Linked DNA regions of Homo sapiens: region 2 is linked to region 1. The links come from fine-mapping of genetic effects on plasma protein levels. Region 1 holds a variant in brackets. A gene starts in the other region. All regions are shown on their forward strands.

Region 1 (9,329 bases):
TCACCATGTTAGCCAGGATGGTCTCGATCTCCTGACCTCGTGATCCGCCCGCCTCGGCCTCCCAGAGTGCTGGGATTACAGGCGTGAGCCACCGCACCCGGCTGAATAGGCTTGATTCTGACAGGCTGAATTTGAGGGGGTGATGGACTTCTAGTAGGGGATGATTTTTAAAAAGTTTTCTGTTTTATTTTTAGAGACAGGGTCTCCCTCTGTCACCCGGGCTGAGTGCACTGGTGCAGTCGAAGCTTGCTGCAGCCGCGACCTGCCCGTAAGTGGGCCTGTAGCAGGGGTGATTCATGTGGGTCTGGAGCACAGGCGGAAGGCCAGGCTGGGAGAAGAGTTGGAGAACCATCAGTTCTTGGGTATTGGCTGAACTCATGGAGTTAGACAAGAATCTTTGTTTTGTTTTGTTTTGAGACAGGGTCTCTGTTGCCAGGGCTGGAGTGCAGTGGCTTGCCCTGACTAGAGAAAAATCTTTTTCTGTTAGGAGCGAAGTTTTATAATTGTAGGCTTTTTAGTCTGGTATCTCAGGGTGTAAGAAGGGCCTGTTTAGGAATGTGGCTGTGGCATATCCAGCTGTATCTTTAATTATTGTTACCTTTTTAAAAAATAAAAAATTTTTTGTAGGGATGGCGGGGGGCGGGGGGGGGTCTCACTATTGCCCAGGTTGGTCTCGAACTCCTGGCCTCAAGTGTTCTCTGCCTCGGCCTCAAAAGTGCTTGGATTACAGGCATGAGCCACTGTGCCTGGCCTTTAATCTTTGTTACTTGTTCTTACTGCCAGAGAGTGGGACCGTGGCCGTGAGCGCCGTAGTCGGGGTGAATATCGGGACTATGACCGGAATCGGCGAGAGCGCTTCTCGCCACCTCGCCACGAACTCAGCCCGCCACAGAAGCGCATGAGGAGAGACTGGTGAGATGGAGCGGTTTCCCTCTCCTCCCCTTTGCCTCAGTTCCACCTGGGCCTCCCCTTTCTCCCCTCACCTGTGCCTAAATCTTTGTCATTTCCTTTTCTCAACTTCCCATCACCCATCGTTACTTTGTCCCTTGAAACCCTTGTCTGGGAGACCATGCTGTGTGTACCCCCGTCTGTCCATCCTCCATGCTCTGGGGAGGTGACTCCCTTCTCTGCTTTACTTTTGTGTCCCCCACCTTCAGGGATGAGCACAGCTCTGACCCATACCACAGTGGCTATGAGATGCCCTATGCTGGGGGGGGTGGGGGCCCAACTTATGGCCCCCCTCAGCCCTGGGGCCACCCTGACGTCCACATCATGCAGCACCATGTCCTGCCTATCCAGGCCAGGTAAGGGTGGGGCTTCTCAGAAGAGGGTTGGTAGGCCTGGGGGATGGATGGGGTTGCTGAAGGCCATGGCTGAAGCCAGGGAGCGGGTCAGGCACACAGAGGCATGTCCCTGGGGTAGGGGTGGTAGCTGTTGGGGTTTGGGGTGATGTCCATGGTGGACAAAGTAAAGGGGCCCCAGCTACTTTGGCCCCTGTAGCCTCCCACCGTTCCCCAAAAACCAAGCCTTCCTGACCGGGGTCCCCTCCAGGCTGGGCAGCATTGCAGAGATTGACCTGGGTGTGCCGCCGCCCGTGATGAAGACCTTCAAGGAGTTTCTCCTCTCCCTGGATGACTCGGTGGATGAGACGGAGGCCGTCAAGCGCTATAATGACTACAAGCTGGATTTCCGGAGGCAACAGATGCAGGATTTCTTCCTGGCGCACAAAGATGAGGAGTGGTGAGTGCCCCTACTTCCCTGGACCTCTGCCCTGGCATGTCCCCCTGGCCCCGCTGGTGGAGCCACAGCCCTGTCCTCTTCCCAGTTTTCCCTGTCCAGAACTTTCTGGGGGCGGGGGTCGGGAAGTATGACAGCATTGGCTGATGGGGTCTCCCCCTCACTTCAGCAACTGCCACGGCCCCCGCCCCGCCCTGTCTCCTGTCCTGCTGTCCTCAGAGAGTGGGACACCTCCAGGCAGCAGGCCAGAGCCACTTGGCCCCTTGGGGCAGCAGACAGACTGCTTCCCACTTGTTGGTGTTGGGTCATTGTCATCCCTGATCACCAGGACCCTGTGTGGCTGTGGCGTCCTCCTAAAGCGACGAGTGAATCCAGACAAGAAAAGCAAAGATCTCGGTCGTTTGACAGAAAAAGAATTTTAATTTTTTTTTCCTTTTGTGGATGTTTTAATTTTAATCAACCATCTTTTCCCCCCTTCCTGCTCCTCCTCCTCCTCATCCTCTTTCTGCTCCTCCTCCTTGAAAAGAGCCAGAACTGGGAACTACACCCGCTCATCGACGGAGCTCGGAGCAAACCCACCTCCACCCCCACCATACCCAGCCCATACATGAGCCCCTGGGCTGAGCTGCGCGGCCCCGGCCAGGCAGACAGGCCAGGGCACTGCTGTGCACAATGCAGCGGTTTAGCTGAATGTGATTGCTCAGGCAGCTAGCCAGTCAGGCCCCACTGCGGAGTCCCGCGTGGGCATCTCGGCCGGGCGCCCAGCCAGGAGCCAGCCGGTGGCCCACCAGCCAGCATGGGCCCTGGGCGCCGCTAGTTAAATCTTGAGCTCTGTTTGACCAAGCGGCCAAGGTAAAGATCCTGGAGGTGATGCCTGCGGCTTTCCTTTCCTCTTCTGCCCCACTCGTGGTTCTGTTCTGTCTTCGCTGTCCCCTCTCTCGAATTGCTCTGTGTCTTTGTCCTAATCTCTCAGCACCTTCATTCTTCTCTGTTTCTGTTCTTGCTCCCTGCCTAACACCACCTTCTTCCCTGTTGGTTTTTTTAGTTTCTCTCTCTGATCTTTAGTTTTTCCCTTTGTTTTCGGTTTCTGGGACTTTCTCACACTCTCCCCTTTCCTCCCTTTCCCCTTTTCCTCATACTCCTCATTTCTTCTGTTTTCCCTCTGAGGTCCTATTTGAAATGTTTTATTTTTCTTCTCCCTAACCTTCCAGCCCTCTCCTCTCTCTCCCCCTGTGGGCAGGACCTGAGGCTCTAAAGGGCACTCCAGTGTCTCCCTTCGGTCTTTCCTGTCCCTTCACCGTCTTGCTTATCTTCCCACGGGTGGAGAAAGGTGCCCTGCCTCTGGGCTTTTGCTATCTGGCCCTCTGTCTTCCACCTCGGGGTGGAGGGAGTTGGCGGGAGCAGTTTTTGAATGACTGCAGTTTGGGGTTGGTGAGGAGAGGGAGGTTCTTCAGGGCCTGCTATTTCCTGAGCCTTCCTCTCTGAAGCTTTGGGAAATGACACCTTTTTACTACGTTAGTGTTTCCCAGAGATTTAAAGTGGTAAATCTGCCTCTCCTACCCTGGCGTCCCCCTGTAGTCATTGGTCTTCCCAAATCCAGAGCTCTTAGTTCCTGGTTCTCCCCCAAATCTTCACAGAACACAACTTCTGGTTCCTTTTGGGGTGTTGGGTGGTTCTAGCGCACCCCTATCCCTTAATCTCTCTATTTTGATGACCTTTTGTGGTTGTGAGAGGAAGGGGGATATGCCCTGTCTTTCCTGGGCCCCTTCCCACATCCTGGCCTTGGCTTCCAATAACTGTTTTGTCTTTCCCTCCCCCGCTTCGTTCCCAGGTTTCGGTCTAAGTACCACCCAGATGAGGTGGGGAAGCGTCGGCAGGAGGCCCGGGGGGCCCTGCAAAACCGACTGAGGGTCTTCCTGTCCCTCATGGAGACTGGCTGGTTTGATAACCTTCTCCTGGACATAGACAAAGCTGATGCCATTGTCAAGATGCTGGATGCAGGTGTGCGGATTTGGAGGGGTGGCAGGCATCTGGGCCCCATGGGGGTGGGGGTGTCTGGGGATCAGGTAGAAGCCGGTTGACAGGAGCCAGGGCCCTGGGGTCATGACCTCTGTTCCCTTTGTTGGTAGCCGTGATTAAGATGGAAGGAGGCACGGAGAATGATCTTCGCATCCTGGAGCAGGAGGAGGAGGAGGAGCAGGCAGGAAAGCCTGGGGAGCCCAGCAAGAAAGAAGAAGGACGGGCTGGAGCAGGCCTAGGGGACGGGGAGCGCAAAACCAACGACAAGGATGAGAAGAAGGAAGACGGCAAGCAGGTCCGAGCCCTGGGTCTCCTAGTGTTGTCCCTGGCAGCCTGGGGGAGGGGGGCGGGTAGGGGTCCATAGGAGCTAGAAGTAGGGGGCTGGGGAAAATGAACCTGTGGCCTCAGCTGTGGGGGTGGGGGCCCTCTGATAAAGGTGGGAGGGGAGGTTTGACATCCCCAGTGGTTGTCTCTTACCATAGGCTGAGAATGACAGTTCTAATGATGACAAAACAAAGAAGTCGGAGGGTGATGGGGACAAGGAAGAGAAGAAAGAAGACTCCGAGAAGGAAGCCAAAAAGGTGAGGTGTCTGTGGCCTGGGGTCAGAGTGTTGGGGCTGGGGTTCTGGCACGCTGACTTGTCCCCTCTGCTGTGGCTCACACAGAGTAGCAAGAAGCGGAACCGGAAGCACAGTGGTGACGACAGCTTTGACGAGGGCAGCGTGTCAGAGTCTGAGTCGGAGTCAGAGAGCGGCCAGGCTGAGGAGGAGAAGGAGGAGGCCGGTAGGGTTTCTTTTCTGCTTTAAAGTGCGTTCTCCTAATGCGGGTGGGGAGGTGAGAG[G/A]TTGGCGACATTGACGGGAGGGTGGGTGGCTTTTAGGGGAAAGCTTCTGTATCCTCCCCACCACAATCAGTAATAAAAATGCACCAACTCCTTCCTACCCCCCTTCCTGCCTAGAAGAAGCGCTCAAGGAGAAGGAGAAGCCCAAGGAAGAAGAATGGGAGAAGCCCAAGGACGCCGCGGGGCTGGAGTGCAAGCCGCGGCCGCTGCATAAGACCTGCTCCCTCTTCATGCGCAACATCGCGCCCAACATCTCCCGGGCCGAGATCATCTCCGTGAGTGGGGACCCGTGGAGTCAGGGCAGGGCTGATGGAGAAGTGGAGGGTAGAGGGAAGGCAGTGGGGCCCTGCCTGTGACAGATGCCCCCGTTTCACCTGCTAGGGAGGCCCCTTCCCCAGGTTCCATGGCCTCCGAGGACTAGTCCTGATAGCGCCATTGGCTTTCAGGTGCTGGTGTTCTGAAGCCCTTTAGTGGTTTTTCCCTGCCCAAGGATGGGAAGAGTGATAAGGCAGTTAGTCCCTAGGGTTCTGAGGGCAGTGGGGGATTGGAGGAAGAAGCGAATGAATCCTTGAGTCACTGTGGGGCTGCTTTTCTGCTTCTTGCAGCTTTGTAAAAGGTACCCAGGCTTTATGCGGGTGGCGCTCTCAGAGCCCCAGCCAGAGAGGAGGTGAGTAACTCGGTGCGTTGGAGGGAAAAGTGCAGGGGAACGTTAATGGCCAACACCAACTCCCTCGCTTGACTATGCTAACATTTTCTTTCTTGTGTAGGTTTTTCCGTCGTGGCTGGGTGACCTTCGACCGCAGTGTTAACATTAAAGAGATCTGTTGGAACCTGCAGAACATCCGTGTGAGTGCTGGGGGTGGGACTGTGGGGAAGAGGAAGGGAGACTCTGTGCCACACGGGACCTCTGTGTGACTTTGTTCATCTGATAGTTTGGTTGTTCTGCACACTCTTTGACCGTTTTGTCTGGCTACGTTGTCTCTGGGCAAGGCTCTAGGGCGTTAGCATGGACGGAACCTATGTGGTCCCCGTCCCCAGGGAGCTCGCAGTCTGATCAATCGCTGGTGCTCAAGAGGGAAGGGTCTTAGAGCTGCTGTTTCTCTGGCAAGCGGGGTAAGTGGGGTAAGCTGCTGATGATGTCTGCCCTCCAGCTCCGGGAGTGTGAGCTGAGCCCTGGTGTGAACAGGGACCTGACCCGGCGCGTTCGCAACATCAACGGCATCACCCAGCACAAGCAGATTGTGCGCAACGACATCAAGCTGGCGGCCAAGCTGATCCACACGCTGGATGACAGGACACAGCTTTGGGCCTCAGAACCAGGGACGCCTCCCCTGCCCACGGTCAGTGACTCCCCAAAGGACTTTGTCAGAAGCAACTGGTAGTGCCTCTGCTGTGGGCACCTCTGACCTTACCTATCTGTAGCCTTGAACCCTTGCACCCACTCGCCTGCTCACTCATTTGCCCCTTCGTGTGTGGGTAGCAGCACCTCCAGATTCCAGCAGAACTGGGGGGATGCTAGTGATCATTTGTGGCTGGGGTGGAACAAAAGCTAAAATAAAGACAAATCTCAAGGGGGCAAAAGGTGCCATTTATGTCCGGTGAACTCCTGTCCCCTCGCTGCTCTTTCACTTGTGGAAAGTCTCAGGTTACCTCCTCTGAAGGTCTTCTCTGCCTTACTTGCTTCTCTTCCTCCCATCAGAGCCTGCCCTCGCAAAACCCGATCTTGAAGAATATCACCGACTACCTGATCGAGGAAGTAAGCGCCGAGGAGGAGGAGCTGCTGGGGAGCAGCGGGGGCGCTCCTCCTGAGGAGCCTCCTAAGGAAGGGAACCCGGCAGAGATCAACGTGGAGCGGGATGAGAAGTTGATTAAGGTGCCAGTGGCAGCGCGGGGCACGTGGGGGCTCGGGCGGTGAGGGCAGGAGCTGAACGCTCGCATTCACTTCCCTTAGGTCTTGGACAAGCTCCTCCTTTACCTGCGCATCGTGCATTCCTTGGATTATTACAACACCTGTGAGTACCCCAACGAGGACGAGATGCCCAATCGCTGTGGGATCATCCACGTTCGGGGGCCCATGCCACCCAACCGCATCAGTCACGGGGAAGGTGAGCTCCAGGTTCCCCTTTGTTCCCGGCTGCCCCTGGCCTTGGTCCTCCAGCCCCTTGCCACCATCCTTCCTTCTGGCTCCCTTGCCAACCTTCCTTCCTCTGTTCCCAAACCACAGTGCTGGAGTGGCAGAAGACTTTTGAGGAGAAGCTCACGCCGTTGCTGAGTGTGCGGGAGTCACTCTCAGAGGAAGAGGCCCAGAAGATGGGGCGCAAAGACCCAGAGCAGGAAGTGGAGAAGTTCGTCACCTCCAACACGCAGGAACTGGGCAAGGATAAGTGGCTGTGTCCTCTCAGTGGCAAGAAATTCAAGGTGTGGGATGTTGGAGAATGGCCGTGCTACGGTGGTGGGAGGTGGGGTTGAGACAGGAAGCCCCCTGGGCAGGGGTGGGGGAACTGCTTACTGCACTGGCAGGCGGGAGCTGGGAATCCTTCCAGCTCGGGCCTGGGAGCGAGGCAACCCTTATGTGGCTGTCCTGACCCCTCTCCTCTCTCCACCCAGGGTCCTGAGTTTGTGCGCAAACATATCTTCAACAAGCATGCAGAGAAAATTGAGGAAGTGAAAAAGGAAGTCGCGTTTTTTAACAACTTCCTCACTGATGCTAAGCGCCCAGCTCTGCCTGAGATCAAGCCAGCCCAGCCACCTGGCCCCGCCCAGAGTAAGATACGATCCATGAAGGTCGCATGTGCCCTCTTCCTTGACTACCCAGGGACTCCTGTTTCTCTTTAACGTGTCACCCCGAGAAGTTTCTGCCCCATCCTCAGGCCATAGCCCTAGAAGTCAATTGTACCCGTATCCCCCTCCCCGCCCCCGCAGTAATTCATGTCCCTGTCCGTGTTGTACTCCCCCCAGGTTTGACCCCAGGACTCCCCTACCCACACCAGACTCCCCAGGGCCTGATGCCCTATGGTCAGCCCCGGCCCCCGATCTTGGGCTATGGAGGTAAGTACAGGAGGGAGATGAAGGGGCTTGGTGAGTGTGTGGCTTTGGGAGAAGAAAACAGAGGATGGAATTGAGGACATAGTTTTGCAACTCAACACTGATCTCTGTCATAGCTGGTGCTGTCCGCCCTGCAGTCCCCACAGGAGGCCCTCCATACCCCCATGCCCCGTATGGTGCTGGTCGAGGGAACTATGATGCCTTCCGAGGCCAGGGAGGTTATCCTGGGAAACCTCGCAACAGGTGAGGAGGGCAGACGCCCAAGCTTTGTTGCCGCCTGCAGACTCCCTTTTGGGAGCCCTCAGCTCTCATCCTGTACCTCTCACCTCACAGGATGGTTCGTGGAGACCCAAGGGCCATTGTGGAATATCGGGACCTGGATGCCCCAGACGATGTTGATTTCTTTTGAGCCGTCCCCCGTTCCTCAGTCCTGTATCATCCATACTTGTACTACCTTGTCCTATGAAGCTCTGAGAATTTTTTGTACGATCAGCCTTACTGCTAATAAAAGCACTTCCACAGGGCTCCTGACTCTCGTGTGTTACATAACTCCTCCATCCTTCCAGAGTAACTCCTGAGGTGTTGCTCAGCCCTGCCACTTTTATTATTGATGTCAAAAGCGCCAGGCTTTGCAGGGACACCAGTGGGAGGTACATAGGTGCGTGTCTGGGACCCGAGAATCTCAGTTCTGTAACTTCGTCCTCAGTCCAAGGTGCGCTGCTGCTGTTGGGAGCTAAGGCTGGTCAAGCACAGGTTGTAGAAGGAGTTGGGGTCAAAGGCTGCACTCACCTCTTGCCAGCCCACCCACCCAGCAGCCTGTAGTTCACTGGGGCTTTTTGGAGTGCCCCAGTAGTGAGGGTCCAATACCAGGACATAGGCTTCCGTGCCTGACCCTACGCAGACTCCCAGCAAGGCCTTGGACCTGGCATCTGCGTCCCCCCCAACCATGACTGGGCCCCCACCCCCTGCGAAGTGCGAGTAAAGCCTCTCCAGCTCCCCGTGCAGCCCCACTCCCCGGGGTACGTGGCAGAGGCGTCCCTGGGGCCCTCCGAAGTGAGCGAGGCAGAGGCTGGCCTCCACGCAGCCGATCCAGTCCCGGGAGCCCCGGAAGCCGGGGGGCTTGTCGCCCATGTCCTCCAGGGCCGCCTGTACGGCGGCCAGTCCAGGTACGCCCGCGGGCTGGCCCTCTGGCCACGAGCACAGCGTCTGCAGAGTGCGGTAGCCGCAGCCCCAGCCGCGGTCGTCCAGGCCGTCGCAGCCGTAGTGGTAGTAGAGGTAGTGGCCCGAGAGCAGCGCCAGGCGGACAGGGCCGCGGCTCGGCGGGGACAGGCCCACGTGGACGTCCCTCAGCGGCTCCAGGGCGGTGGGCGGGAGCGGAGGTCCCAGGCCAGGCACAGCGTCCTCCTAGCGGCGCGGAGCGACCTCAGGCTCCAACACTTCCTTTCGGCTCCGGGTCTTGGGCCAGCTGCCGCAGGACCGGCGCGCAGACTGGGGACGCGCTCCCCGGGCCTCGTTGATCACCGCAGGCCGCAATAGGCAGCCACCGACCGGCACCGACCGAGGAGCTCCCACAATGCTCCGCCGCGCCCCGCCCCGCCCCGCCCCTCCCCTCCCCTCCCCTCCCCTCCCCTCCCCTCTCCTCCCCTCCGCCGTGCCAGCTAGCCTGCCTGCGGGCCTCATTACGCAGGCG
Region 2 (16,928 bases), not on the chromosome of region 1:
GTTTGTCAGGATTTCCCTCAGATACAAGGACTAAATTCAGACAGTTACTACAGCAATTATTTGAGAGACCAAGCACACCCTTTGCAACATAGATCAGAGGGTTATTATTATTATCTTTTGTTTTTTTTTTTTTTTTTTTTTTTTTTTTTTTACAAAAAAAGGAGTTTTGAAAAGAAGGCCTCGGTTCCCAAACTGTGGCTGCCCCTCACCCAATGGGCACCACCATGACCACCACTTGCTCAACAGTAGACCAGGGCACCTGCTTGCAGACGGGAACCAGGGCTGCTGGGCTTGCTCTGCAGGAACAGTGCCTCATTTTAATCTACCACACAACAGAAGACATGGGAATCCCGCCGCGGCCTGGATCTGCATCCAGCCCGGATAACGACAAAGGCAGCAAACATTGACTGAAAACAATTTGCTGCATGCACCGATAAGACTTGGTGGTGAAAAACTATCTTGCTGATTTCTCAGAACAACTCTATGGAGCAGATGCTATTATAATATACCTCTTAAAGATGAAATGAAAAATCAAACGATGAAGACCACAGAAATTAAGAGACTTGCCCAAGGTCACAATGCCAGGCTAATTTTCACTCCCTCTGAAACACAAATATCCTGATGATGAGACACCAAGTATCATTTAATCCACTACAGATCTTTCCAAAATGTTGAAAAGGTTTTTTCCCCCTACTTTGCAGCTGCTCTTTTTTTCAGATGCTGACATGACCTGCCCCGACCTGCCTGGAGGAAAAGGCTGCCTTGGTCTGGGAAGTTTTGTTTCTACTGCAAATGTATCTCTGTGTCTCACTATTTCTCCTCATTTCTGTGCTTCACCTTAGGAATCTTCCCTTTTTTAAATCAATCCAAATGCTATGGGTAGAATTGTGTCTCCCTCCCCCTCAAAAAGCATATGTTGGAGTCCTAACTTCCAAGCACCTCAGAATGTGACTTTATTTGGAGTCTTTACAGAGGTAACGAAGTTAAAATGAGGTTGTTAGAGTGGGCTCTAATCCACAATGACTGATGTCCTTCTAAGAAGAGATTTGGAGACAGGCTCATCCACAAAGAAAGAACACTGTGTGAATGTACAGACAGCCATCTACAAGCCAAGGAGAGAGGTGCACAGAAGATCCTTCCTTCACAGCTCTCAGGAGGAACCAACCCTACTGCCCTCTTGATTTTGGACTTCTGGTCACCAGAACTGAGATGGTAAATATCTGCTGTTTAAGCCTCCCGTTCTGTGGTATTTTGTTAAGGCAGCCCTAGCAAATGAAGACCCCATGGAACTTTTGTTTAGCCTGTGCTGCTGTCCCAGGACAGAGGTGGCCTCACAGGGGGCTCTGCTCAGTCATTAGACACCTAGGGACCCCCCGCATCCCAGCAGCCCACCCAAGGCTTCCTTGATTCTCCCACCAGGCTCCAAGCTCCCAAGGGGATTAACGGCATTCATTTATTTTTTTTTAGTTACATAATTAGGTTCTTCTTAAGAAATTTAGAACACCAATTTGTGAGGATAAATTCCATTCACCAGGGCACACACAGATTGCAGGTAGCCCTGGAGCTGAGGAATAGCTTTGAGTTTTGGTAAAATTTGCCAGTCCATGGTTTTCTGATCAGCCTTGCACTGCTTTGTAGTCTTACATTTCTCTTTTTCTGTCAAAGATCTCACCCTCCTACTGACTAGGCTTCCACAACTGCTTCTTAAAGTAGGCATTGGTAAGATGTTTTGGGTTTCTCACACTGCTGGTATCGATTTTTTTTTTTTTTTTGAGACAGTCTTGCTCTGATGCCCAGGCTGGAGTGCAATGACGCCATCTCAGCTCACTGCAACCTCCAGCTCCCAGGTTCAAGTGATTCTCATGCCTCAGCCTCTCAAGTAGCTGGGATTACAGGTGTGTGCCACCATACCCGGCTAATTTTTGTATTTTTAATGGAGACGGAGGTTTCGCCATGTTGGCCAGGTTGGTCTCGAACTCCTGGCCTCAAGTGATCCACCCACCTTGACCTCCCAGAGTGCTGGGATTATAGGTGTGAGCCACTGCACCCAGTCCTGATATCAATTTTTATGGAGGTGGTGATGACAAATTTCTGGTGTGTCCTTCACAGAGGAACTCCATGGAAGACCAGAGGTCCAGCCACAAGTAACAAGCTACTGCCCAGCTGCTCCAGGAAAACCACCCTCCTGCCTTGGTGGCACCAAGGGAGGATGAGCAGAATGGTCTCGAGGGCCGTGCTGGCTCCAAGTTTTCTCACATGCTGACTGCAGAGTTTCTTGCGATGGCTGGACAGCTTTTGAGGCACATCTCTGTTGGATAATATCAAGGCATTTTGTGAAGTTTAAATAGCCAGGCATCACCATTCTTGTCACCTCAACTGGGTTTGTAACGGTTGCGAGATTCTTTTCAATCTTGGGTTTAGCAGCTAAGTACCTCCTCTCGTACATGGCCTTTCTGGAATACATAGCAGATCAGGAATATCTGCCAATTCCTCCAATGAGGACAGGATTTTGGGCTTCCCCTTCTTGGGCTTTTTAGCTCTGAGGTTCCCCTTTTCACCTTGCCACTGGCAAAGCCTTGTTAGCTTCAGGTTTCTTCTCCTTAGTATCCGGCTTCTCAACTTTTTCACCCACCATCTTGCAAGATGGGAAGGTGATGTTTAGACGCTCTTGTCATTTACCCATTTATTTGAGTAAGGACAAGGAGTTTCTACGTCCCAGATCTCCAGATTTACAAGTCAACACATAAGCATTGATTTTTGTCCCCCGTGAAAAAAGCTAAGTGATAGACAAATCTTAGAGTCAGTCATCTCTTATTTATTTATTTTTTAAAAAGCATGAAGGGCTTTGAATTAAAATAATTCACCTAGCACTAAGGCTGAGCCATGAAGCTTCAAAGAACAAAGAAGTTGCAGAAGGAGAGAGCTACAGAATTTGTTTTCAAATATCCTAAGGTAGTGTGGGCAGGAAGGGATGTGACTGGAATTCATAACACCACCAGGACCAAACAGTGCCAAATATCCTGTGAGCCATTTATTTTTCCTCCTCACTGTATATTGCTAAGAGCGGCATAAATTATAAGGCAAGGCCAGATAGATATAAAGATCAGATGAAAATCTCGCCCAAACCATTTTTCATCGATTAATGTTCAGATCTGCCACGCCCATCTTTTTGGTCTGGCTCACAGATCTCTGGCACCAATTGCATCACTCAAGGTTTAGAGAACCGCAGAAGCATCTGACCAATTTGCACTTTTGACAAATTAAGGACCCAATTAAAGTGGCCATTAATAAGCTAGAAACAAGCAGACAGGTATAAATCTGGGCTTCTGCCTCACACTTCAAACAGATTACTCCACATGGGGAGGGAATGGGCAGCTGGATGATTTGTTTTTAGAGCAGAGAGGAAGACAGGGAAGAAGGAAGGAAAGGAGGGAGGGAGGGATGAACATACATACATAAACATAAGCCCAGCTTTCTGTCACTAAACTCTGTAATATAGATATGCCAATCTTTCAGTATATGAAAATCTGGATTTACACACATGCAAAATTAGAGGTGATGATTTGTTCTACCAATAGGTTCATGATAGGGAAGATGGGCTCACGGGAGGCTAAATGGTCCCCTGGAGAACTTAAAATGGTTTAGATTGATATAATCAATTATAATACACATTACTAGCATAATTATTCTTTTTTTAAAAAATGTTTGTCTCACTTTTTCTTTTTTTAAAAATTTTACTTTAAGTTCTGGGATACATGTGCAGAACATGCAGGTTTGTTATATAGGTATAGACGTGCCATGGTGGTTTGCTGCACCCATCAACCCGTCATTTAGGTTTTAGCCCCACATGCATTAGGGATTTGTCCTAATACTCTCCCTCCGCTTGCCTCCCACCCCAGGACAGGCCCCGATGTGTGATGTTCCCCTGTGTCATGTGTTCTCATTGTTAACTCCCCCTTATGAGTGAGAACATGCAGAGTTTGGTTTTCTGTTCCTGTGTTAGTTTGCTGAGAATGATGGTTCCCAGCTTCATCCATGTCCCTGAAAAGGACATGAAATCATTCTTTTTTATGGCTGCATAGTATTCCATGGTGTATATGTGCCACATTTTCTTAATCCAGTCTATCATTGATGGGCATTTTGGTTGGCTCCAAGTCTTTGCTATTGTAAATAGTGCTGCAATAAACACACGTGTACATGTGTCTTTATAGTAGAATGATTTATAATCCTTTGGGTATATACCCAGTAATGGGATTACTAGCATAATTATTCTTATTAAAGAAAAGAATAACAAGTTCCAAGAAATATTTGAGAGAGGTGTCATGTTGTTCCTGGTTGGCGTTTGTTCCCCCAGTGCTCCCCAAGACAGAGCAAGGGAAGGATCAGCTGGGGAGAAGAGGCCTCTCCTCCAAGTCTCCCAAAACATCCCAGCATTGAATGGAAGGGGGGCCAGAGCAGTCACAGGAAAGGGAGCCACTGACCTAGGGACAACAGTGACTGTCCCACCAGGGCACTTGCCTGATGTTGTAACCCATTTATACCTGAGGTTGCAATTTTTTGAATTTTTGCAATCAGACCTTGACGATGACCTTGTGCAGAAGGATATAAATAACTCCCACATGCTTAGTGTTCCAATAATGGAACACTAGGCATAAATGGGTTTTAAGCAGGTAGCCAGGAAGAATTTCAGCATTGACTTCCCTCACGTGTGCAGCTATATACCCGCAAAAACCCTAGAAGGTGGCAGGGGGAGACCCTTTCTCCCCCAGATCTAGCAGAACAATATCACAAGCATCTTCCCTGGACTAAAGAGGAGGACTGGAATCACTATTTCTCATAAAGGGTGGCTTGACTTTTTTTTGACAAAGTGTTTCTTTATGTATTACACAACATTTCTTTATGTAATATAAAGTTTACGGATGAGCATTTTGTCAAGATAATAAAGCAACACATCCTGGCCTTAGAAATTCAGTAGGAAGTAAATCTAAATTAGGTTCCATCCCATAGGATTTAGACACTGAAGGATCGAAAGAAAGAAAGAAAAGAGAAGAGAAGAGAAAGAAAAATACTCTAATACCAGTTCATTTGCAAAGTGACCCAAGGCAGGAATTTTAATGCCAAGAATGTGCAGTCATGCTTAAGTATGGCAGGTTCACTTTCCAATTTCTGTAATTAAATCGTAACTGACAACTGGGATGGGTAGGAGAGGAAGGGAAAATAAATTTAATTCTGCTTAATAAAAGGTGCCAGACCACGATGAAATCTCATTCATGAATTGTTTTTTTTTTTAATCATTGGAATTGTTTTAAAAAATAGCAAATGCTCAACAAATGCAAGCTAAGTTAAACACTTTGGACAACTTACTTGAACAACACAATCATATAATGTGGGTCCTGTTGTTATCCCACAGAGCAGGAAACTGATGCTTAGAGCGCTTGAGGAAGTGGTGTGAATGCAGGGGCCAAGCACCAAGCCACTCTGCTAGATGGCCTCTTGGTGAGGAAGAGAACTCATCTTTAGCTTAGATGTTAAGGGAACAAATCTACCATTTCCATTCTCCTCATCCGTCACTTAAGAACAAGTCCTAATATTTTTAAGTAATAAGTATATGGTCAAAAATGAATAACTCAGAAATATCATGAATGAGAGAATTCCATGTCAGTCTTACAGAATATTTGAAGAGAAATTTTCTTTGTACCACATACACAAAAATCAAGCATAGCTTAGCTTGTTACGTATTGCTTAAGTGAAAAAAAAAAATCAACTTTAGTGTAGTTAATACCTCAGCCACTAGGGGAATATCTGCTTTTATTAAGTTAATATTTCTTGTACCTAAGTAAACATTCCTTCTTCTTCCTGTCTGTTCTTACAAGTAACAAATAAGTAGATAGGTATTCCCTTAAAATTCCGTGTGTCTTTCTTTGGATAATCAACGAGCAGTTACAGAACAACTAGCCCCATTCTAAATCTGATACCAGAGATTTCTGAATCAATGCAATTTTATGTCAAATCTATACATCTCTACCCATGTGAACCAGCTTCTGTTCAAGCACTGTTTGTCGGCCTCCAGAGCAAGGAGCATGACAATGCCCAGCTTTCCTCCTCAGAGCTGTTGCTGTTAATGTGGAAGAAAAATGAGGGACACATCCTTCTAGACATTTTTTTTGACAATGGAACGAGAAGTAGAGTTTCTGCCAGGATATATTTTGCACATCATCCAGATTTTTTTTTTTTTTTTTTTTGAGACAGGTTCTCACTCTGTCACCCAGGCTGGAATGCAGTGGCACAATCATGACTCACTGCAGCCTCAACCTCCTGGGCTTAAGGAATCCTCTCACCTCAGCCTCCCAAGTCGCTAGGACTATAGGTAAGTGCCATCATGCCTGGCTAATTTTTAATTTTCTTGTACAGTCTGGATCTCCCTATGTTCAGACCTTCCAGGCTGGTCTTGAACTCCAGCACAAGCGGTTCTCCCTCCTCAGCTTCTCAAAGTACTGGAATTACAGGAATGACCCACCACACCCAGCCATATTTTGCCTTTTGTATGAGAAAGGAGGAGGTACCGGAAATGTAACCTTCACCTTGAACAGTGATGACTTTTTTCAGGGGTCATCTGGGTGAGTTTCAAAGGATGCCCCACCTGCACCTCACCCAAAGACTTATATGGGAACCATGAGAGGGGCTTTAAAATGCTATATATATAGCAAAACCAATAGTTTTATTATTCTCATATTTTTGAATCCTACTTCCTGAACATAGAATTAGTTCCTCTCTTGCATAATGGTAGATGCTATTTTTATGGCATCACTGATTTTTTTCTTATTTTTCTAAAGAATGAAACAAAAATTTCTCAATTCATCCTGAGTCACCTACTTGAACTTTCTCATGGAACAGAGCGCTAACATTCACTGGATGTGTACCATGCACCAAGCAACATAGTAAGCTCTTTACCTACTTATCTAATTTACTTCTCACAACTACCTAGTTAGGCAAGTCTCTAGTGGCAGCTCTCTGTTCTGTGCCCACAGGTTGGAAAATGATGAAACTGGCCTAACCCATTTGGCCAACCCTGAAGACTCATATGGCCCCGTAACTCACTAGAAACCCTCTCTCAGTAAAGGACTCGCTTTGTTTCCTGGTGAGAGCTGAATAGCATTCATCTTCCTTTCATCTAAACATGTGTTTTTTCTTCTTCTTTCAAATAATGCCTCATTTGCTATTTAAGCTTTTGAAGAAAAATAAAGACAAGAAAATATTAGAGAAGGCACTGTCCTTCCAATCTGCTGCTTGGCATCCCCTACCACAGAGGGCATCTGTCCCTATAAAGTCACCTGTCATAAAAGACCAAGACAGAGGCAAATATCGGACCATTGAAGATACCAATAAGCTGTGTGTGGCTTAACATAAAAATAACCACACATTAGCAGGTGGTAACTCCACCACCAAGGCCAAAAGCAGCCCAGGAAGCTGATTAACACGCACATCAGCCTCTTCTCTCACTTGTGAAGGCAGGTCTGTCTGTCTTCAATTCTTATTCTAGTACTTTTACAAAAAGACTTTTCTTCTTCTCTGCATGTTCCCTCCCTTGCTGTGTCCTAGACAATTCTAAGAATCCCAAATTGAATCTCATTCTCTGAGAAGTAGATAGAATGACATGCTTTTTGAGAATGTGATTCCAACCCCAATTTCTAGAATACAAGAGCCCTAGAGCATCTTAAGACCAGGGACTTTTATATACTCATCACAAAGAATGGATGTGATACTTGTTTAAACATCAGAGAACTCAATTTCCCCTTTAATTCCACTGCCAAGCTTGATTTCACTGCAGCCACTTCATCAAATGAATTTATAAAATATGGACCAATGAAAAGAAACTACAAAAAAAAATTGTGCTCCATAAGCAAAACTTGTCATGCCAGCAACAAATTTCCCTTCTCCGCATCTGCATAGCCCACCTCAAGGAACAAATTTGTCAAGCAACTTTTTAAGTGCCCTCCCCCTCCATCTACTTTGTCCTTCTGGAATAAATACGTTACTGACACAGTTAAGACATGTCAGCCCTTACCTTTCTGTAAGTCACAAAATGGTGGTTAAAAGTCCTTTTCTTCCATTCAGTGGTCGAGACTCTTGCTACGACTGGAGTATCTCCCCCGGGAACACTCCCTCTTCCCTGCTTTGCCTCCCAGCCTCTCCCTTCAGCTTCAGTCAAACATTAACCATTAACATTTTTTATTGCTCTTCGAGAGCCACTGGGTATCATAAAAAGTGTCATTACTTTTACTCCAGGAAAGAAATGACTTTGTATCAAAAGAAGTTTAACTTACATCTAATCCATCTCAAAACAGGTTGCTACATTTTTCAATGTAGATGAGTCAATGAAAAGACAAGAAGTTAGAGTGGAAAAGTTTTTGTGTATCCAACTATCTCTAGAGTGTGAGGTTCATGACATCAAAGACTTTCCATATTTTGTACCCCCAACACTTAGCACAGGAGACTTGATCAGCAAATATTTATGTAGATTCCATCTCAAACACAAAAGACGGAGCAGGGGCGCCATGTCTGAGCAATGACACAGTTCATTGATAACCAGCCACATGAGATATCATAAATGACTCAGAAGACATGAGGAAAGACACAATATGGCTGTGCCTGCTTTTGAAATCCAAGGGTCCCTTCCAAAGTCTGCAAGAAACAACCGATAGCAAATTTCCCCCAAACACAAACCAAGTCCTTTTTTCCCCCCCACAATTCAGGGAATGGATTTACCTAGGAACAACTTATTTTTCCCCAATCAAAATGAGGTTTTTGATTAACCAATAAAAGCCAATGCCCCCAGATTTCTCAAGTCAAGGCTTCTTTTAGACCAATTCCTGATTTCCACACTTTGGTCACTCTGGGAATCCACACTGAAGGTGAGCATCAATGTCATGTCTGTGTCTGGTGTGTTACACTTGGCCCTGTTTCTGTGGACCTTCTCATGTTCATTTCTTGGCTTCTCCTGAGCTGAGGTTGTGTTTTCCATTCCTCTCCAGGTGTGCATCTGACAGAGGGAAAGCAAGAGAGCCCAGCCCACTCTCTAGAAGGGCTCCCTCCTTTCCAGATTTCATGAGAAGGTTTCATGAGTGCTCTAAGCCACTGTGGGAATAGACCTCATTTATCCTGAGGACCCTGCAAGTGAAACCATCTAGTTGCATGCCAGCTGTTAACATCCTTGGTGGACTGGTGGGTTCAGCAAAGGCCCTTCTTGCTTTGTCCCACAGCCAGCATCACTCATTTAGAAGAATGAGGTTATTGAGGCTAAGCACTTCTCACATTCTTCACACCTCTGCCCTCCCATTAGCTGAATAAAGTGTGCTTGTTCTACAAAATCAAATCGCTTCCACTTGCCACATGTTTCAGTTCCTGGAATCAAGGGCAAGCATCTCATCACACAGCATTGTTCATAAAGAAGTTTGGGTCTTCTTTGAAAATTTTAAAATAATAAAGTGCTTTTAAATTTATGAGTTTTTTTTTTTCAAAAATAAAGTGCATATGTATCATTTATAGTCATTGTTTTTCAGCAACAATAACAATGATCGTGACATGTTGGTATATCAATTAAAATTCTGTTTTCTCATTTAGCATGTCTGCAAAGTAGATTCCAGTTTATAGACAGAAAATGGGGACACAGAGAGGTTTTATTTCTTGTCTAAGTCACACAGCCTTTGACTACAGAATCGGGACTGCAACCCTGTTCTGATTCAAATCCCATCCTATTCACTACAGCTATAGACTCTGCCAGATTTTTTTCCTTCCAGCTTTATGCGAGTAAAAAAAAAAAAAAAAAAAAAAAAAAAAGTCCAAGGGCAGAAATCCCTGCATGAGCCCATTCCTGTTGGAAGATGGCCAAGTTCCGAAATGGGGTTCCTCTGTACATCACTTGCTATCTCTAGCCCCCAGCTTCCAGCTCAAAGAATTAGGTTAATTAAACACTGAAAATGCCTAAACCACCCATCAGAGAAATTAACAGGTGATTATTGCATTTCTGAATTACAGAAGCTATTTCTGTACTGTGGGATACCAGGTTAACAAGATTCTGAGAGCTGTTCATATATTCCTTACATGGTTTAGACATCCTTCCAGATTAAATCCAAATGTTAAGAATGTGCACGTTTCAGGTAGCCACCACTGCATTTTAGGAACTCATTTTCATGAAAAGTGAGACATTGCTGGTTCAATAGACTTGCTAATAATAGGAATAAGGAAAATGTAATTGATAAATATTACTGATTTAATTTTCCAAAGCAAAGGAGGTATGATTTATAGGATGAAAACAACTGAAGGCCAGGCGCAGTGGCTCACACCTGTAATCCCAGCACTTTGGGAGGCTGAGGCAGGCAGATTACCTGAGGTCAGGAGTTTGAGACCAGCCTGTCCAACATGGTGAAACCTCATCTCTACTAAAAATGCAAAAATTAGCCAGGTGTGGTGGCAGGTGCCTGTAATCCCAGCTACTCAGGAGGCTGACTCAGGAGAATCATTTGAACCTGGGAGGTGGAGGTTGCATTGAGCCGAGATTGCACCACTGCACTCCAGCCTAGCCGACAGAGCAAGACTGCATCTCAAAAAAAAAAAAAAAAAAGAAAACAAAACTGAACAAGTGAAAGGACTTGGGCTAATGCTTTCAACTCACAGCTTCATGGTGGTGAAAACATTTCAACGCTTTTGTCTATAATGTTTTAAGCATTCCTCCAATATTATCCCTAGAAAATACAAATGTCCATAAATAAGTAATTAATTTATGGACATTTGTAAGAAAGTCTAGATAGCCTCCCAGACAAAAAAGTTATGAAAACTTGGAATTATTCCTAAAAGTCAAAGCATGTTACATTTCTAATATTTATATTCTTTTTTATTTTATTTTATTTATTTTTTGAGATGGAGTCTTGATGTCCCCAAGGCTGGAGTGCAATGGCACAATCTCAGCTCACTGCAACCTCCGCCTCCCAGTTTCAAGTGATTCTCCTGCCTCAGCCTCCCATGTAGCTGGGATTACAGGTGCCCACCACCACACCCGGCTAATTTTTTATATTTTTAGTAGAGACGGGGTTTAACCATGTTGGCCAGTCTGGTCTTGAGCTCCTGACCTCAGGTGATCTGCCTGCCTTGGCCTCCCAAAGTGCTGGGATTACAGGCATGAGCCACTGCTCCTGGCCTATTTTTATTCTTTAAAACTCAAAATGAAATCTATGAGTGGTAAATTTCTCAATTTTTCAAGTACTTGCATTTTATGTTCTTTATGTGTTACATACTACACATTCAGAATATTTTATCATGAGTCCATCAACACACAACCCTCACCTAACAGAAGTGTAAAATAATATTTTAATTACTTAATATCTGTCTTGCTCTGTTAACTTGATGATGGCAGAAACTTTGTCTTCAATTAGTACTCAATAAGTACTTCTTAGGACTCAACTCCATTCAGTTATTTAATTCAATAATTCTAAATAGTCATGATTACCTGCAGGCTCAACCAAGGCCAATAGGAACCCAGAAAAGCAAATAATTTTGAACCCCCTGAAACCTAGAGTTCACAGTTTTTGTTCCACATTTATTTAGTGGAATGAAGTGAAACTAATTTTCTGCTAGTCATTGTTTTAGGCTGAAGCAGAATCTTTCTTAACTACTTTTGCTGGCCAGGACAGAGTCCATTTTCTGATAAATTTAAGCAAAACAGGTCTTACTTCCATGTAGCTCTTACTTTTTTGGAGACAGGGTCTCGCTCTGTCACAGGCTGACAGGCTGGAGTGCAGTGGTGCGATCTCGGCTCACCGCAGCCTTGGCCCTTCAGGCTCAAGCCATCCTCCCACCTAAGCCTCCCAAGTAGCTGGGACTACAGGCACACACCACCATATCCCATTTTTTTTGTAGAGATGGGGTTTCATCCATCCAGGCTGGACTCCAACTCCTGGGGTCTAAGATCTGCCCACCTCAGCCTCTTAAAATGCTGGGAATACAAGTGTAAGGCACTGCGCCTGGCCTATACTTACTTCTGAGTTTGGGTTTGGGGTTTTTGTTTGGAGGCTTCTCTGTTGTTGAGTTTTTTTTTTTTGGCAGTTTTCCAAACCAGAACACTTGAGAGAATTATCACAAGATTTAAAACTTAGATAACAAAATGAATCACTAGTTCTAAGTAAGAAACACTGAATCATACATAATGCTGTTTAAAAATCTTAGCTGACAGCCACCTTGCGATATTCTGAAAAATATTTAAGGAAGATAGTTTGAGGTTAGTAAAGATTTTCTTCCCCACTATCTACTCTGACAGAAGTGGACCCACTTTGTACTTTGTTTATTCCAGGAAGATTTTTAACTTCATCTATAGATGCTGGCTCCAAGCAACTGCCCAGCAGGCGGGGCCCTCAATCTGGCTCCAGCTACGCATGCCATGAAGTGGCTGGAGAATCTCATGAATGGGATGGCTAGTAAGTATTCACATCATCAGTTGTACATTGGACAAATGCCTTCCAGGTCTTTCCAAACTGAAGTTCACTAAAACTGGGGCTTACACTATGAAATCCTGGTTCAGGGTATGTCCCTGGGTCCCTTGCTCTGTTGCCCAAGCTAGACTGCAGCATGTAATCATGGCTCACTGCAGCCTCGACTTCCTGGGCGTAAGTAATCCTCCTGCCTCAGCCTCCAAAGTAGCTAGGACTACAGGCAAGTGCCACCACACCAGCTAATTTTAAAATTTTTTGTAGAGATAGGTTCTATGTTGCTCAGGCTGCTCTTGAACTCCTGAGCTCAAGTGATTCTCCTGCCTCGGTCTCCCAAAGTGCTGGTATTACAGATGTGAGCCACCATGCCTGGCTGGCACTCTGGATTTCTGATGCAGGTGATTACATAGGCCCTTCTGAGAAACACTAGCTTAAGGAATCATTGCTTTATCCTCCAGTAAATATTCTTCAGCAAAGCCTATTCTGAATTGAGATTAATTACCCCACCATGTAGAACCCATTTCTGCAGGAATGTCTGAGATAATGATGCAGTCGGTCTGATGTTGAACATGCAAGCTGGATCTGGTAGACATGAGCATGCTCATCTTCCCTCAGACATTTTTTTCTCAGACAGCTAAGCTTTTTATTTGATCTTGGATTTTCTTTAAATTCCAAGAAATGACCATCATTCTTATTGGTTTTCTGAGACCTATCTCTGTCTCTTATCAGATTTCACCTAACAAGCTTTTGCTCCCATCCAGCTCATGCTCAGATCACAGTGTCTGGCTTCCATCTTCACTGCTCCACTGAAACCACCCTCACCGAGGTTGCCAACAACCTCCTCATGATAATCAGATGGACGCTTTTCAGTCTGCACCTCACCTGACCTCTCACAACTTTCAACACCATGGCGAGCTCTCCTCAAATTTCCCTTTACCCCGGCTTCCTTGCCAATACTCTGATTTTCCTTCCACCTCTTGAGCTAGTCCCTTGCAGTCCTACTTGTGACTCATCCAACTCCTTGGGCCCAATCCCAGGTTATCCTGTCCTGTCACTCACTCTGTGGAGGTCAACTCTGCTCCCATCTACTTGCCAACATCTCGAGTCTCTCTCTAGACCAGATCTCTCCTCTGGTCAAAGCTCTGGTTTTCTATATCCAACTGACTATTCCACAACTTCGCCAAGGTGTCCCATGTGCACAACAAACTCCACACAGCCATAGTGAACTGTACTGTTTTAATTCTCCAAAACATACGCCTCCTAGAACACTACCCCTTCATGTTAGCCCTGGTGGTCATCACCACTTAGCCAGACAGTGTGCAGTGACTGCCTAGGAAGTACTGTCATGGGGTCAAGTAGGAGACCAGCATGCATGTGAGCTTTGCTTGGAAGGACTCAGACTTGGACACTAAGGCTTATTAAATGGTCCCCCTTCTGTGCCTGTGGGTCTCTCATTAGACACCAAAACAGGATTGCCTCTGGAAATTCTGCCCTTAAGAGAAGTATTTCCTGGGAAAGAATACTCTTTTTAGTAAATTGTGAAATTGATCTTCACATGCAAAACAATGAAACTGGACCCTGACCTCACACCATTCAGAAAAATTAAAATATATCAAAGACATAAATTATAAGGGCTGAAACTATAAAATTCTAAGAAGAAAGCAGGGGTAAATCTTTATGGCCTTGGATTAGGAAATGATGTCTTAGCTATGACACCAAAAGCACAAATAACAATAGAAAAAAAAACAAATTGGACTGGACTTAATCAAAATTAAGAACTTTTGTGATTCAAAAAACACCGTTAAGAAAGTGAAAGACAATTCATAGAAGGAAAGAAAATATTTGTAAGTCGCGTATCTGACAAATGAACTGTATCTAGAAGATATAAACAACTCTTACAGCAACCCAATCAAAAAATAAAGGATCTGAATAGAAATTTTTTAAAAGATATACAAATAGCTAAAAAGCACATGAAAAGATGCTCATCCTTAGGCATAAGCAAAATGCAAATCAAAACCACAATAAGATGGCATTTCATACCCACCAGGGTGTTTCATACCCACCAGGACAGCTATAATAAAAAAGAGATAATACCCAGTGTTGAAGATGATGTGGAGAAATTAGAATCCTCATATGCTTCTGGTGGGAATGTAAAATAACACAACCACTTTGGTAAACAGTCTGGGAGTTTTAACAAAAACTTAAATATAGAGTTACCATTTGACTTAGCAATTTCACTCCTAGGTATATAGCCAAGAGAAATAAAAACATCACACAAAAACTTGTACACAAATATTCATAGCAGCATTATTCATAATAGCCAAGAGATAGAAACAACCCAAATATTCATCAACTGATGGATAAAATGTGGTATCCATATGATAGAATATTTGTCTATCCATATAATAGAATATTCATATAAAAAGATATGAAATACTGATACTACAAGACTAAACCTTGAAAACATTATGCTTAGTGAAAAAAGTCAGACAAAAAAAGCCTAATATTATATAATCCACTCACATGAAATGTCTGGAATAGGCAAGTCCATAGACAGAGAAAGAAGATTTCGGAGTTGCCTGCAGTTGGGGGGCAGAGGGGGAATTTAGAGCTGAGAGCTAAAAGACATGGGGCTGCTTTTGAAAGTGATGAACATTTTCTAAGTTTTATTGTGGTGGTGGTTGCACAACTCTGAGAATACACTAAAAACTACTGAATTGTGCACTTTAAGTTGGTAAGCTGTATGATATGTCAATTATATCTCAATAAAGCTGTTCTTAAAAAAAGTATTCCCTGCAACTAATGCATATTCACTGCAAAATAATGAAATTGAACTGACATAAATATACAAAACATAGGCTAAACATTTTCAGTTACCTCGGTCTAGGCCCTTCAGATCATTTTGTTCTATTATCGGAAATGTCTTACGGTTTCCAAAATCATTTATTTTCCTTTAAGTATACGAGGTTTTTTTTTTTTTTTTAACTAATTTTACCTATTATTTGACCTCTTTTGTTTTTTGTGTTTTTAAAATGTGAATAAGAACATTTCAGTACACAAAGATTATCTTTGCCCTGGATAAAGTAGAAAATGACAATGTGGGCATAATGGCCCCTCAGCCCCTCTGATAGTGTCTCAGCCCAGGCAGTTCAGCCCTAGATAAACTTGACTCAACTGCCTGCCTGAACGAAGACTATTTTCTTTCTACATGACTAAACCTAGTAACTCAGGAGACAAGGAGGCCAAATTCTCCTCCCTTTAGTTTTCCCACTCAGGATTACATTGGGCCTGGTCTCAGGAACAATCCAGGAGTTTCTGGAAAAGCCATGTTATCTTCAAACTAGAATTTTCCAATAGCTACAGGAGGAAACACAGGAAATGAAAGCTCACATCTGCAATCTGTGTAATTCCCTTGCCTTGGGTGGTCCACAGGAGCAGCCCACAGTGCAGTGGAGGAGGAGGGGAGAACAGAAGCCCTGCTTGGGAGAGACCATCTGGCTCTATCAATGAGCCTCAGCCAGCGTCAGATCCCTTCTAAGGAGGCCTGGGAGGAGGCCGGCGGAGGACCCTCACTTCCTTGCTGGAGTCTCACTTAGCCCACATGCTCCTGCTTTAAACCTGATTAGATAGACCAGCTTCTCAAAAAGGGAGGGCTCCAGAGGGTTTGTTTTTTTTTTTTTTTTAATTCTCAGATCTTCCCAAGTCTGCTCTCCTAAGTATGAGAAACAAAGGGAATTGCCTAGAACCAGGACTATATCTAAAGGGATTTACAGGACAGAGGTAGCTGTACTTCTTCTAAGTTACCACTTTATACTAAAGAAAATCAATGGTAGTTAACTACACAATACTTGACTAGAAGTTATCCAAACTCCACTCCTCTTCTTTATCTCTAAAGAGAGGTTTTTCTCAGTACAAATAAGTTTTTAGTACAGGGGTTCTCAACGCTGGCCGCATAGAGCCACTGGGATTGTGATTTGACTGGTCTTTGGTGAAGCCTGGCAGCAGTCATTCTTAAAGTTTCCCTTGGTTCCAACGTGCAGCCGAGGTTGAGAACTGCTGGCTTGGTGTCTACCCTCTACCAAGCAATTTTGCTCTGCATCTCAATCTTCACAGCAACACGGGAAGGTATTTTTACTACTTTACAAATAAATAAATACAGGAGCAAAGAAGATACAAATCGATTCTCTCAGATTTGAATCCGGATCTGATTCAAAAAATAATAAGAATAAAGCCTGAGCTGCTACCCTCGGCAAAGCTCCCGTAGCAGCCGCTGAGTGAGCCTCCTGCCCAGCTCTACTTACCTCCCAGGAGCCCCAATCAGACAAGCGGGGGTGGGGGGACTCAAGTCCACTAAGCAGATTGATCAACTCAGATCCACAGCCAAAATATCATACTTCCACCGTGATTACATGCTCACCAGTCGCCCCTCCCACTCGATCTTTCTGAGCT

Direction of the effects. Positions count from the first base shown, and alleles are read on the strand shown. Strength reflects both the effect of a copy and how common the allele is.
In carriers of allele G in region 1, the plasma level of the protein whose gene starts at base 8,138 in region 2 tends to be lower than with A alone (strong association).

What was found. PIP is the posterior inclusion probability: the model's chance that the variant is causal. Protein levels are from antibody-based Olink assays in UK Biobank. Linkage for the fine-mapping came from a reference panel and not from the study's own genotypes, which makes the PIPs less certain.
Region 2: CDH17 starts here. The variant in region 1 is fine-mapped to the plasma level of the CDH17 protein (UK Biobank, PIP above 0.99).

The regions. Positions count from the first base shown.
Region 1 is chr7:100,880,502-100,889,830 of GRCh38, forward strand. It overlaps SRRT (serrate, RNA effector molecule), which reads left to right. Exons shown (of 20, transcript NM_015908.6): 3 at 784-912; 4 at 1,158-1,304; 5 at 1,552-1,740; 6 at 3,569-3,738; 7 at 3,867-4,051; 8 at 4,239-4,337; 9 at 4,422-4,539; 10 at 4,712-4,869; 11 at 5,200-5,261; 12 at 5,362-5,440; 13 at 5,746-5,934; 14 at 6,294-6,467; 15 at 6,546-6,699; 16 at 6,819-7,012; 4 more. The coding sequence ends at 8,048. UFSP1 (UFM1 specific peptidase 1) reads right to left here and starts at 9,214. Exons shown (of 1, transcript NM_001430944.2): 1 at 8,220-9,214. The coding sequence starts at 8,998. The coding sequence ends at 8,342. RefSeq lists enhancers at 442-1,279, 5,303-6,036 and a silencer at 9,238-9,287. The variant G/A (reference allele first, on the strand shown) is at 4,598.
Region 2 is chr8:94,200,418-94,217,345 of GRCh38, forward strand. CDH17 (cadherin 17) reads right to left here and starts at 8,138. Exons shown (of 18, transcript NM_004063.4): 1 at 8,066-8,138. It also overlaps the pseudogene RPL6P23. RefSeq lists an enhancer at 5,665-6,864.